2 linked regions of the Homo sapiens genome follow. The protein of the gene in region 2 interacts with the protein of the main gene of each other region in a biochemical or structural test. Each region holds a gene or a part of one and is shown on either strand. Other genes may lie near its edges.

The links. Proteins that work in one complex are often made in the same cells at the same time.
Region 1: the proteins of UBXN11 (region 2) and RND2 form a complex in vitro, tested with the Homo sapiens proteins (one study listed by BioGRID).

What each region holds. Positions count from the first base shown.
Region 1 is NC_000017.11:43,028,187-43,032,541, forward strand, and holds the end of RND2 (rho-related GTP-binding protein RhoN), read left to right. Parts: coding exon 1-9; intron 10-245; coding exon 246-494; 3' UTR 495-903; coding exon of another isoform or gene 904-928; 3' UTR 929-3,855; downstream 3,856-4,355.
Region 2 is NC_000001.11:26,282,596-26,289,639, forward strand, and holds part of UBXN11 (UBX domain-containing protein 11), read right to left. Parts: intron 3,443-7,044; coding exon 3,228-3,442; intron 2,947-3,227; coding exon 2,869-2,946; intron 1,888-2,868; coding exon 1,767-1,887; intron 1,651-1,766; coding exon 1,547-1,650; intron 343-1,546; coding exon 269-342; intron 195-268; coding exon 54-194; intron 1-53. UniProt on the Homo sapiens protein: May be involved in the reorganization of actin cytoskeleton mediated by RND1, RND2 and RND3. Promotes RHOA activation mediated by GNA12 and GNA13.

The DNA.
Region 1 (4,355 bases), on a different chromosome or scaffold from region 2:
CATGAGCAGGTGGGACCCTTGACGTCTGACCTCATCCCAGCCTAGACCTGTCACCTCTGCCCCTTCAGTCTCTGATTTGAAAACACCTTACCTGGCTCATCCTTTGTTCTGGTCTGTGACCTCTGACCTGATCCCTTGACTGCCCCCAGCCTTGACATTCAACCCCAGCCCACAGCCTCCATGCCCCTTTCTAAGCTGCAGGCTAAGACCTATAACTTTCTCCCATGCACTCCTTCCTTTTCCAGGGCACTGTGCTGGCCAAGCAGGTGGGGGCTGTGTCCTATGTTGAGTGCTCCTCCCGGTCCTCTGAGCGCAGCGTCAGGGATGTCTTCCATGTGGCTACAGTGGCCTCCCTTGGCCGTGGCCATAGGCAGCTGCGCCGAACTGACTCACGCCGGGGAATGCAGCGATCCGCTCAGCTGTCAGGACGGCCAGACCGGGGGAATGAGGGCGAGATACACAAGGATCGAGCCAAAAGCTGCAACCTCATGTGAGGGGCTAGGAGAGGGCAGAGTGTGAAGAGGGGTGGTGAGGGACACAATTGTTCCCCTGCCTGCGCCCAGGCTTCCTGACCTCCTGATCCTGGCTGGGAAGTTAGGGCAGGCAGAGCGAGCAATTCTGGGCAGGGGAGCTGGAGGGCAGAAGGGTATCATCGTTTCTCATCTCCTCCTCCCTCCTCTTCTCCAGTGGATGTTGAGGGAGCTAACAGGGCTGGCATCTGGGGCATGAACTGGGATGGGGCAGGTGGGCGTTAGGGAAGCTGGTATCAAATGGTGACCTTGGTGGAGTCTCCTATGTGAAGAGTACCCTCCCTCTCCACCCCCAGTCCCCATATCCTGGTTCTGGCCCAAGGAAAATGTCCATTCTATGACCTTCTCTTTTCCTCTCCTCTCACTTCTGCAGCTATTCTCACACATCTAACCTCTAGGCAACATGCACTAAATTCAAAAGCAAGGAGAAGCCCTTGCCCCCCATCAGTCCACCAGCCCTAGAACCTCCCTTGCCTCAACAGTCACCTAATAAAGCCCACCTCCATGGAAAACGGCTGTGGCTTTAGTTTTGTTGCTTTTTAAAAAAATCAATCTACCAATCTTTAGCAGTAAGAGGGAAAGTTAGACCTCAGCTGGGGAACTTTCCTGTCCATGTCCACAGATAGAGCAGAGGACAAAGCCATAGGTTGGATCAGAAGTGTCCTTTTAGGAGTCAGAGTTGGGAGAAGGAGACATCCTGGGACTGTTCATCCTAGTTAATGAAGTGGGCAATTCTCAGGCCATTAGGGGGTTTTAGAGCAGACCGACATATAATTAGTCAGCATTTCTCAGCCCAGCCAGGCCTGCTGCTAGTGTGGGAGGGGTCCTGCTCACCATCTGTACCCCTGGCTTGGAGCCTGCTGGTACCCTGGGGGTTGTGGGGATAAGGAGGCATCAGGCCGGGCGCGCTGGCTCACGCCTGTAATCCCAGCACTTTGGGAGGCCGAGGTGGGCGGATCACAAGTTCAGGAGATCGAGACCATCCTGGCTAACACGGTGAAACCCCATCTCTACTAAAAATACAAAAAATTAGCCAGGCGCGGTGGCAGTGCCTGTAGTCCCAGCTGCTCGGGAGGCTGAGGCAGGAGAATGGTGTGAACCCGGGTGAACCTGGGAGGCGGAGCTTGCAGTGAGCCGAGATTGCGCCACTGCATTCTAGCCTGGATGACAGAGCAAGACTCTGTCTCCAAAAAAAAAAAAAAAAAAAAAAAAGAAGGCATCAAAAGCCTCCACATCACAGAAGCTACCCCTGTACAGCGTGAAGTTTCCTAAGAGGTCAGTAGTTTGATTCTGGGGTCTCCTTAGAGGCTCAGGCCAGGGACCTTTCTCTCCTCCCATGCTGAGTTTCATGATGGCTTTCAGGGGAGCATCAGCTGTTAGAGTCACCCCTACCCTGTCCCTTAAAGGAAAGACGGTGGAGAGGACGGCTGAGCGCCTGTTGTCAGGAAAGACAGTACTGGTCTGTTTTCTCGGGAGTCTGGTTTCAGATTGTCCTGTATTCCCTTCCTGGCTCTGGTCCCACTGGCCTCTTTTCGGTGACATTCTCCCCCAGGAACCATCCCTGGCCCTTCCCTCCCCCAGCCCTAGCCAGTTCTCCCAGACACACTGGAAGAGAACACTGACCTTACCCAACTATCTGCTGGGATCCCACCCAAATTTATAGCCCATTCCTCCCTCATTCATTCATTCAGCAAGTATGTACTGAACACCAACTGTGTGGCATACACTGGCTTGGGAGATTGCAAGGACCAGTCTCTAAGCTTTTGGAGGCCAGCCCAGTGTGGAAGAGAGGTACCTCAGGTGTGAGGGTGCCATGGCTGAGGGATATTTGTACATGTATGGGATGCTATGGGAGCTCCTTGCAGCCTGAGAAGCCAGTCCTGTGAGCCAGGTCCTGAGGGTTGAAGAGGAGTTTTCCGGGCAGGGAAGGGGTAGGAAAGGCACTCTGGGCAGAGGGTACAGCATGTGTAAACACGTGGAGATGAGAATGAGCATAGCACTGTTGGGGCTCCCATGGCAGGGAGAATAGAAGACAAGGCTAGGAAGGTACACTGAGGCTACTGCAGGGTCCACAGAGGAATCAGAATTTCATTCTGAGGATGAATGAAATCATCCTCAGAGGATGAAGCCACCAGGAATTTCAGGCAGAGAGTGAAGTGATCAGAGTTGTTTTTTGGATAGATGGTTATCTGGATGTGGTGTTGGAGCTGGGAGATTTGGCTCTGAGGTGTGTCATTTAAAATAATAGCTTCTCGGCAGTGGCTCACACCTATAATCCCAGCCAAGATTCCTCCTTTGGGAGGCCAAGCTGGGAGGATCGCTTGAGGCCAGGAGTTAGAGACTGCAGTGAGCTATGATCATGCCATTGTCTTCCAGCCTGAGTGTCAGAGTGAGACCCTGTCTCTAAAAAAAATTAAAAAATAAAAAATAAAAAATAGCTTCTCCTTTCCCTTATGCCAGGTTCCAGTCTTGAGAGGAAAGGAATCCCTACCCACCACTCCCTGGATCATCAGATATCCCTATCCCAACCTCTCCTATGGGACTAGTTCATCTCAGCCAGTCTCAAAGATTCTAGGATAACTTCAATGGCATTTGAAATTATCTAAGTGTGCTTGGATAACCACCCCCTCAAACTGAGACCTGGTTAGGGACTGACTCAAAGACCCTGAGTCCTCGGCTAAGGGTACAGGAGAGGGCAGGGGCTCCAGGCCCAGCTAGGTGGATCTCCATCTGTCTCTGAGGACTGACCCTTTCCCCACAAGGACCTGCCATAAAAATCGACTTGCGATTTTTAGCTGAGTGGCTTCTCTTTTCCACTTTGGACTTCTCAGTGTATAGCAGGTTCAAGCCTGCAACCACCAAAGTGCAGAGTGTGGAGTGTTTGTGCCCCCTCTTTCCTCCAACCTCCATATCCTGCCATGTGAGCTCAGGGAATGCAAATGCATTTAAATATCCATCTAAAGCAAACATAATTAGAAAAATCAATCAGCTGGAGGACCCCCCAAAGTTTAATACATTTTCAATACCACCAGGAATGGATTTTTGGTCCCTTTCTGCAGGTCTGGGTTGCCAGACGTTTTATTTCTGGGGAGGAGGGCTCTGGGCTGAGGAGCTCAGTGGGTGGGAGGAGGGAATGGGACTGTTGCTGATCCTCAAAGGCCTCTGTAGGATGGAGGGAGGGGACCTTACTCCCTTCCCCACCCCAGATGCAGGAGTCACCCAGCTTCCTTCTCTGCGCTGTTTCCTTCACAAATTAGACATTGGTTTGGGAAACAATGTAGCCTCGTTAAACATTTAATGAAATAAACAAATAATCACACTGTGATGGCTGCCAGAGTTTCTGTGTTTTTTTTTTTTTTTTTTTTTTTTTTTTGAGACGGAGTTTCACTCTGTCATTCAGGCTGGAGTGCAGTGGCACCATCTCGGCTCACTGCAACCTCTGCCTCCTGGGTTCAAGCGATTCTCCTGCCTCAGTCTCCTGAGTAGCTGGGACTACAGGCGCGCGCCACCATGCACAGCTAATTTTAGTGTTTTTTTTTTTTTTGAGACGGAGTTTCACTCTTATTGCCCAGGCTGGAGTGCACTGGCGCGATCTCGGCTCACGGCAACCTCACCTCCTGGGTTCAAGTGATTCTCCTGCCTCAGCTTCCTGAAGTAGCTGGGATTACAGCCATGTGCCACCATGCCCAGCTAATTTTGTATTTTTAGTAGAGATGGGGTTTCTCCATGTTGGTCAGGCTAGTCTTGAACTCCCGACCTAACGTGATCCACCCACCTCGGCCTCCCAAAGTGCTGGGATTACAGGCATGAGCCACCGTGCCCAGC
Region 2 (7,044 bases):
CTGGGCAGTGGGACCAGAGCCCCTCTGTGGCCCTGGCCCTGCCCTGCACCCACCTGGCCTGCGCTAGCAGAGCTCGCACGTCCCCAATGGTGTTGTCAGGCTGCATCATCAGTAGGAAGGCCTGTTCCCCATTCTCAGACTTGATGCGCAGCATGGAGAGCGGGGGTGCCGGCGTGTTGGGTGACTCCTGGCTCCTGCACAGCCCAGAGGCCATCAGCACGCGGTGACCCAACGCCCCCAGGCCCTCACCTCCTCATCCCGCCCTCACCTCTCTCGCTCAGCGGCCAAGGTGGGCGTCTCCACCACAATCTCCTGGATCCGGGCAGGCAATGGGCAGCAGTTCTGGAAGGTATCAGTGGAGGGTGGACAGAGCCCTAGGCCCCATTTGAGTCATCCCCACAAACCTTAGAGGGACACTTCCTTGACCAGGGACAGATGAGACCAGTGAGCAAAGCGGGAGGGGGTGTTCTGTATAAACCAAGGCCAGAGGAGAGGCAATGGAAGGGGAAGAAGGTTCTGGGAGGCAGCCCCATGGTTCCCCCCAGGTAACCCCCCGTTTCAGTCTAATGGAGACAGAACCCCACACAGACGATGATCAGGCTGGAAGCCCACCCCAGCCTGGGGTCAGGGAAGGCTTCCCTCGGAAAATGACAACTGAGCTGTGACTGAAGGATGAATGGGAGTCCTTAGAAATGGAATGGATGCAGGGATATTCCAGACAGCATCAACAAAGATCCTGGGTTCAGGGAAAGCTTCCTAGAGGTGGCGACACATTTGGGCAACTGCCAGCATTATGTGTGGCTGAAGCTGGGGCTCAATTGGACTGGAAGGAAAAGGTTGGTGTGAGGAGGGGCCTGGCAATATAGGACGGGCCTTGAGTGCCAGCATAAGGAACCTGGCTTTATCTCAAGAACCACTGGAACATTTCAACAGGGAAGGCAGCCTGGAGGATGGTCAGCAGGGGCAGGAGTGGCAGTGGGAGGCAGCTGTCTGGGAGAGACACTCTGAACCCTAGACTAGGGTGGTGGGTGGTGGGAATGTGGAGAAGGGATGCATCTGGGAGAAGTTCTGGGGGTGGACAGACCAGACAGGACTTAGCAATGTGTGGGTGAGGGAGGCAGAGGAGGCCTGAGAAACTAAGGTTTGGTGCCTTTCACAGGTGGACACCTAGGAGGAGAAGCAGAATAGGGAGCGAGGAGACAGAATGATGAGGGCCAAGGAGAGTCTGAGGCAACCACGAAGGGAGTACCCAGTACTGAGTTGGATATTTTGGCCTAGACCTTGATGGGGTGGCCTGGGCCTTGGGCTCACCCCTGGCCTGGACTCTGACTTTAGCCCTCTTACAGCTAACCCACCTGCTTTCCGGGGCCCAGCCCGTGCCCTCACCAGCCTCACAGTTTCCAGGAGACAGTGGAGCAACAGCTCTGAGGGACTCATCAGGTGCCTCAAGCTTGAGCCTTCTGACAAGACACTGTTCTGGCAGGCTGGACCAGGGCTGGTGCTAAAGTTCCCCCAGGAGGGCTGGGGGAGTTAGCATTGGCCTCACCTGCAAGGTGTCCCTGATGGGGCCCCGGATGTCAATCACCTCGCCTTGCCGGATCACAAACTTGGGGAGCCTGTTCAGAAATTTCTCAGCAGTCATCCTGGAGCCTACAGGCAGAGTTGGGAACCGGGGCCCAGGAAGGACTATGAGTGGTGGTGGAGCCCCCCTGGAGTTTGTTCTGCAGTCCCCCAGCCCCCTGGCTCAGCCTGGAGGCCAAACTCACCTGGGTGCTCCTCCACCCTGTCCAAGGCCTTGTGCATCAGCTGCCTGCCCACCACACGGCCCTCGCCTGGGAAGGGGTCCAGTCCATCCTCCAGGTAGACCTGATTGCGCAAGTCACTCACCTGGCAAGAAAGAAGGGCAACGACGGCAGCGGACCCAGCTCTTCAGCCCTTGGCCCCACTTTCATCCCTATTTGCCTAAACACAGGCCAAGGGTATGGTCTAATGCAACCCCCATTTTACATATGAGGAAACCCAGGCCTCAGGAGAGCCACGGTTCGTACTGCTGTCATCTCCCTCAGCCCTGCTGCTCCTGTAAGCACCCCATCCACGCCAGCTGAAGCTGCAGTACTGACACCCTCCTTGGAGACCCCCCTCTCAGGAGCCTACCGTGAAGGCAGAGTGTGAGGGGGTCAGGAGAGGACAAAGCCCCTGCTTTTTTCCAGTCTGCAGCACAAACCGCATCATCGTACATGTAACCTCACTTGCCTTATCAAGGCATAGCTCCGAGGTCCCCGCTGTGGCACGAATGCCTTAAACACCCCCGCGTCATGACTCATGCTGTTTCCTGAGCCCTGGTGACACATGCTCCCTCCCGGACACGCCCTCAGTGCGGCACTAACCCACCACCTTCTAGAACACGAAGCCTCATGGGCTCTGGTGGTGGCACCTACCCATGGGGCCAGCTCTACCTCATGTCTTTGAGTCCCAACATCTGTCCCCTCTGCTTTGCATTTGTGGCTCACAGCACTGCCTCCCACCCTACCCAGATAGCTTCAGGAGACTTGGGGGACAGCCGGGCCACTTCTGCAGGGACCCCAGGTTGTCAAGGTGTCCTGAAAGCTGGGGAGGACTAGAAGGCAGGGGCCCCGCAGCCGAGGCTGTCTCCAGGGTGCCAGCAGAGGGCGCTGCCTGCTGCTCTGTTTCGGGCCTCTCCGCTCCCTTCCCAGCCCGGCTTCAGACTTATCCTCCTGGAGGGCATCAGACTGGGGTCCCCCAGGGAGTGCAGCGGCTTCCCCTCAGAATGGGAGGTGTCTGGGGAGGCTGTGTATCCCCACTCCCTTCAAAATCCCCAAAGGTGTGGTTTGAGGAGCAGCTTATCACCTTAAAGGGGACCCCATTGGGGTACAGTCGCTGGAGCTCTGAGGGAAAGAAGCCATCCAATATGTCTCGGAGGCAGCGCTGCAAGGGAAGAGGAAAAGTGAGGGGGTGGCCTGGGCCTTGGGCCCACCCTGCCCTGCCACTGGTCTGGATGGCAGGCCCTAGATCCAGGGTCACCCAGTGCCGCACTCTGGAAACATTCAGAGTCCCAGGCCTTGGGAGAGGGGCCTCTGCAAGTCGTGTGTGGGCCTGGGTGCCCCGTGGAGGGCAGGCTGGGCCTGGGGTGAGCTGGCTTCATCATCCCCAACTAACAGTGGGCAGCAGGGGCACTAGAGCACCACCCCCCCCAACACCGCTCCTACCTGTGTGGAGGGATCGTAGAAGGGCTGGAAGGGCCCGTCGAACATCATGATGCCATTCCGGTAGAGCTTCAGCGGGATGGGCTCGAGGGTACGCAGCCGTGCCCCGCCGGGCACTGGTGTCACTTGGGTGTCACCCTCTACCACCAGCTCACTAAGATCCTGCAGGCTGGCCAGCAGCCTGTCAAAGTCCACCTCAGGGGGCGCCAATGAGTCCCCTGGCAAAGAGGACAGACACCTGTGAGCCGCCTTTTGGCTGTCATGTCCCTAGCAGCCCTAGCCTCTGTGGCTCCCTCCCAAGCTGGGCAGTGGTCTTAATGTCTCCTTAACTGACTGCCTGGGGAAAAGGACAACGCTAGATAATAACAGCAGCTGTCTTTTATTGAGCACTTATTTTGTGCTAGGGGTTTACTATCCATATTCCATTCCCACTTCTTATCAAGCCTATCTATAAAGGCTATAATCACCTCCATTTTTTCAGATGAGGAAACTGAGGGTTAGAGAAAGTTACATGGCTTGTGAGAAACACAGTAGTAAGCAGCAGAAGCAGGATCTGATCCCAGATCTGTGTCAGGCACTGGGTTGGCAGCTGAAAAGTACAGGGCAGAGCTCCCAGCTCTGGATCGAGGCCTTCTGGGTTCAAATCCCAGTTCCTCCCTTCTATCTGTGTGACCTTAGGTCATTTAATGCTTGTGCTGCAGCATTCTCTTCTAGAATGGATGACAGTAGTATCTGCCTCCTAGGATGGCTGTAAGGCTCCAAGAAGTAACCATGTTAAGAGCCAGCTTGGAACACGCACCCTGTCCATGTTTGCTACTGTGCCCAACTCCACCTTGCACACATGGTCCTTACGCCAACCCTGAGGCTTAAGGCAGGGGTAATTATTTTTATTTATTTGAGATGGAGTTTCACTCTTGTTGTCCAGGCTGGAGTGCAATGGTACAATCTTGGATCACCGCAACCTTGCCTCCTGGGTTCAAGCGATTCTCCTATCTCAGCCTCCTGAGTAGCTGGGATTACAGGCATGAGCCACCACACCCGGCTAATTTTTGTATTTTTAGTAGAGATGGGGTTTCATCATATTGGTCAGGCTGGTCTCGAACTCCTGACCTCAGGTGATCCGCCCGCCTTGGCATCCCAAAGTGCTGGGATTACAGGTGTGAGCCACCACGCCAGGCTGAGGCAGGGGTTATTTAGTTCCATTTTACACATGAGGAAACAGGCCCACAGAGATGAAAAATGACTCGTCCCAAGCCACTTGGTGAGAGGAGGAACTGGGAAGGGAGCCGGGGCTGACTCTCAAGTCTGTTTCCCCCACCCATCTGCACCATCAGGAGAGGGAGGTCAGAAGAGGGACAGATGGCTCTCAGGGAGGATGTAGGGACAGCTGCTGGCCAGAACAGATATGGGACAGACCTTAGGTTGTGCAACTATTTCTGGGTCACAGACCCCTTTGAGAAGCTGACAAAGCTCTGGCCTCCTCTTCTGAAACACGTGTGGCGCATACAGCTGTGTTCTGGCTTCAGGGGAGAATACGGAGCGGTGGGGACAGCCGTGACAGACAACAGAGCAGAAAGGTGGAGGGCAGGTAGATGCTGGCTGGGTACAGACCAGGGGCCTGTTCTGTCATCTTTGATGGGACCTGGCCCCCAAGTAAGTCATCTGTTTGGGTGTGCCCTACAACACACCAATAACTTTTGGGGCCTCAGAGAGGCTGTTTTTCAACAGGACAAGCAGGCTGCGGCAGGATGTGGGTCAGGGCTCTGGGGACCTAATTCCTTTCCTCTCAGTGGTGCAGTGGCTGTACCAGGGAGGTGCAGATGTGTTTCCTGTTGCTTTTGCAGCAGGTGAAATGGTAGGCCCCAGCTGGCCTTCTCCTCTCCCCTATATTTCCTACCATTGAAGGGGCTATACCTGCCCCCAGCCCCTCCGGGGGCTCCCCACATAGTCCCTGAGATTCCCAGGAAAAACTCGCCTAACAGAATGATACCAAGACACTTTTCTTTTAACAACTACCTTAAGGACAAATAGGCAAACCTAAAAACAATAGCAGAATAGATCATCTCATACAATGCCTGCCTCAACCCTTTTTTTTTTTTTTCCGAGAAAGGGTCTCCCTCTGTCACCCAAGCTGGAGTATAGCGGCACAGTCATGATACTGCAACCGTGACCTCCCGGGTTCAACTTATCCTCCCACCTCAGCCTCCCAAGTAGCTTGGACCACAGGCAGGCATCACCACACCCTGCTAATTAATTTAAAAAAAAATTGTAGAGATGGGGTCTCGCTGTGTTACCAGGGCTCTGTCTTCTTTATAGATGGGGAAAGTGAGGCCCAGAAAGGTCAGATGACATGGCCTGATCAGACCAGACAGAGCCAGGAAGAGCACCAAATACACCAACTCCTAATTCAATGCTCCTGCCGCCTCCCAGGGCCGGGGGTTTTTCAGGCTGATGAACATGGGTGGTTGACATGGGATGGGGTGAGACCAGGGAGGATGCCAAGAAACGACGAAGGGGAAGAGAGAAGCTTGCCAAGAAAATGGCCCTGGCTTAAAGAAGTAAAAGCAGGTGGCCCAGGCAGATGCTGGATATGATAGAGTGGAGATGAGACCAGGGGCCAGGAAGAAGGAACCACAGCTCTGGGCAAACCAGCACTGAGAGAATGAGGTGGGAAGAGCTACCACAGCAGGGCCTTGTGAAGCCAGTGAGCCCCCACCACCCCACCAGGGTTCAACTGAGGCCTGACCCGTGGATGGAGAGAGGTGCAGCTGGGGAGTCACACAGCAGGAGTAAGGTCAGAGGGCAAGTCCTAGGTCTGCCCTGAGCTAGCAGCAGAACTCAAATGGAAAGGCACTTCCTCTTTGAGCCACAGCCATCCTTTCTGTGCAATGGGGAGATGGTAAGAACCCTGTACTGCCTGCAAGATCCAGCTGGTGAACCTGTCTGTAAATGACAGCCCTGTGCCAAGCGCCAGGAGGCAGGCATCACCATTTCTGTTTTACAGATAAGGAAATTGGGCCTTATGAGCTGTCACGCCCCAGATCATGCAGCTTGCAGGGCCCAAGTGACTCAGCCTCAGTGCTCAGTGATCACATAGGCTGCCTCTCAATATTGGTTCTTGAGAGGCTGCTTACTGGGGTCCCTTTTCCAGGGAGAGTGGCAATGCTGGGAGATCACCTCTGAGGCCTCATCCAACTTTGAGAGCCCACGAGTGTATTAAAATGAGAAGGGAGCTCAAGTCCAAGCTCTTTGTCCCAACTCCCAAGACCCTTACTTAGCACCCAGCCAACCCTCAACATGCCCCTCGCCTTGCGCTCTGGTGGGCACTGGAGGGCACTTCCGAGCTCTGTAACCCTGGGCCTCTATGGGCCTCAGCTTCCTCTTCTGTACAATGAGGACGATAAAAGTTTCCACACTTCACAGGGCTGCTGTGAGGCTTGGAGGAAGCGTTTGGCAGATGGTGGCTGTTGTTGTCCCTAGCACCGCCTACTCATCGCTGGGCTCAAGCTGTGCCCACTCACCCCTACCTCCTCCAAGAAGCCTTGCTAGGAGCCACCCCCAACCTGCCTTGAGGCTGCATGCCTGGAGCCCTTGCACCTACTCCCTTGGCCCTCGTCACAGGCCGCTGCTTTCTGCTTGCTTGTTTGCCTTCCAGCCATGCTGGGCACCCCTTGAGCTCAGGAGCATTGAGCCCTGGGCCTGGCCCAGAGTGGCTGGGCCACTAAAAGCAGGGTTGGATCCTGCTTTCCAGAAATGTCTGAGCACCCGTGCTCTGCTAGGCCCTGCCCATCATGGCGATGCCCACGCCCAGGGTCCTGCC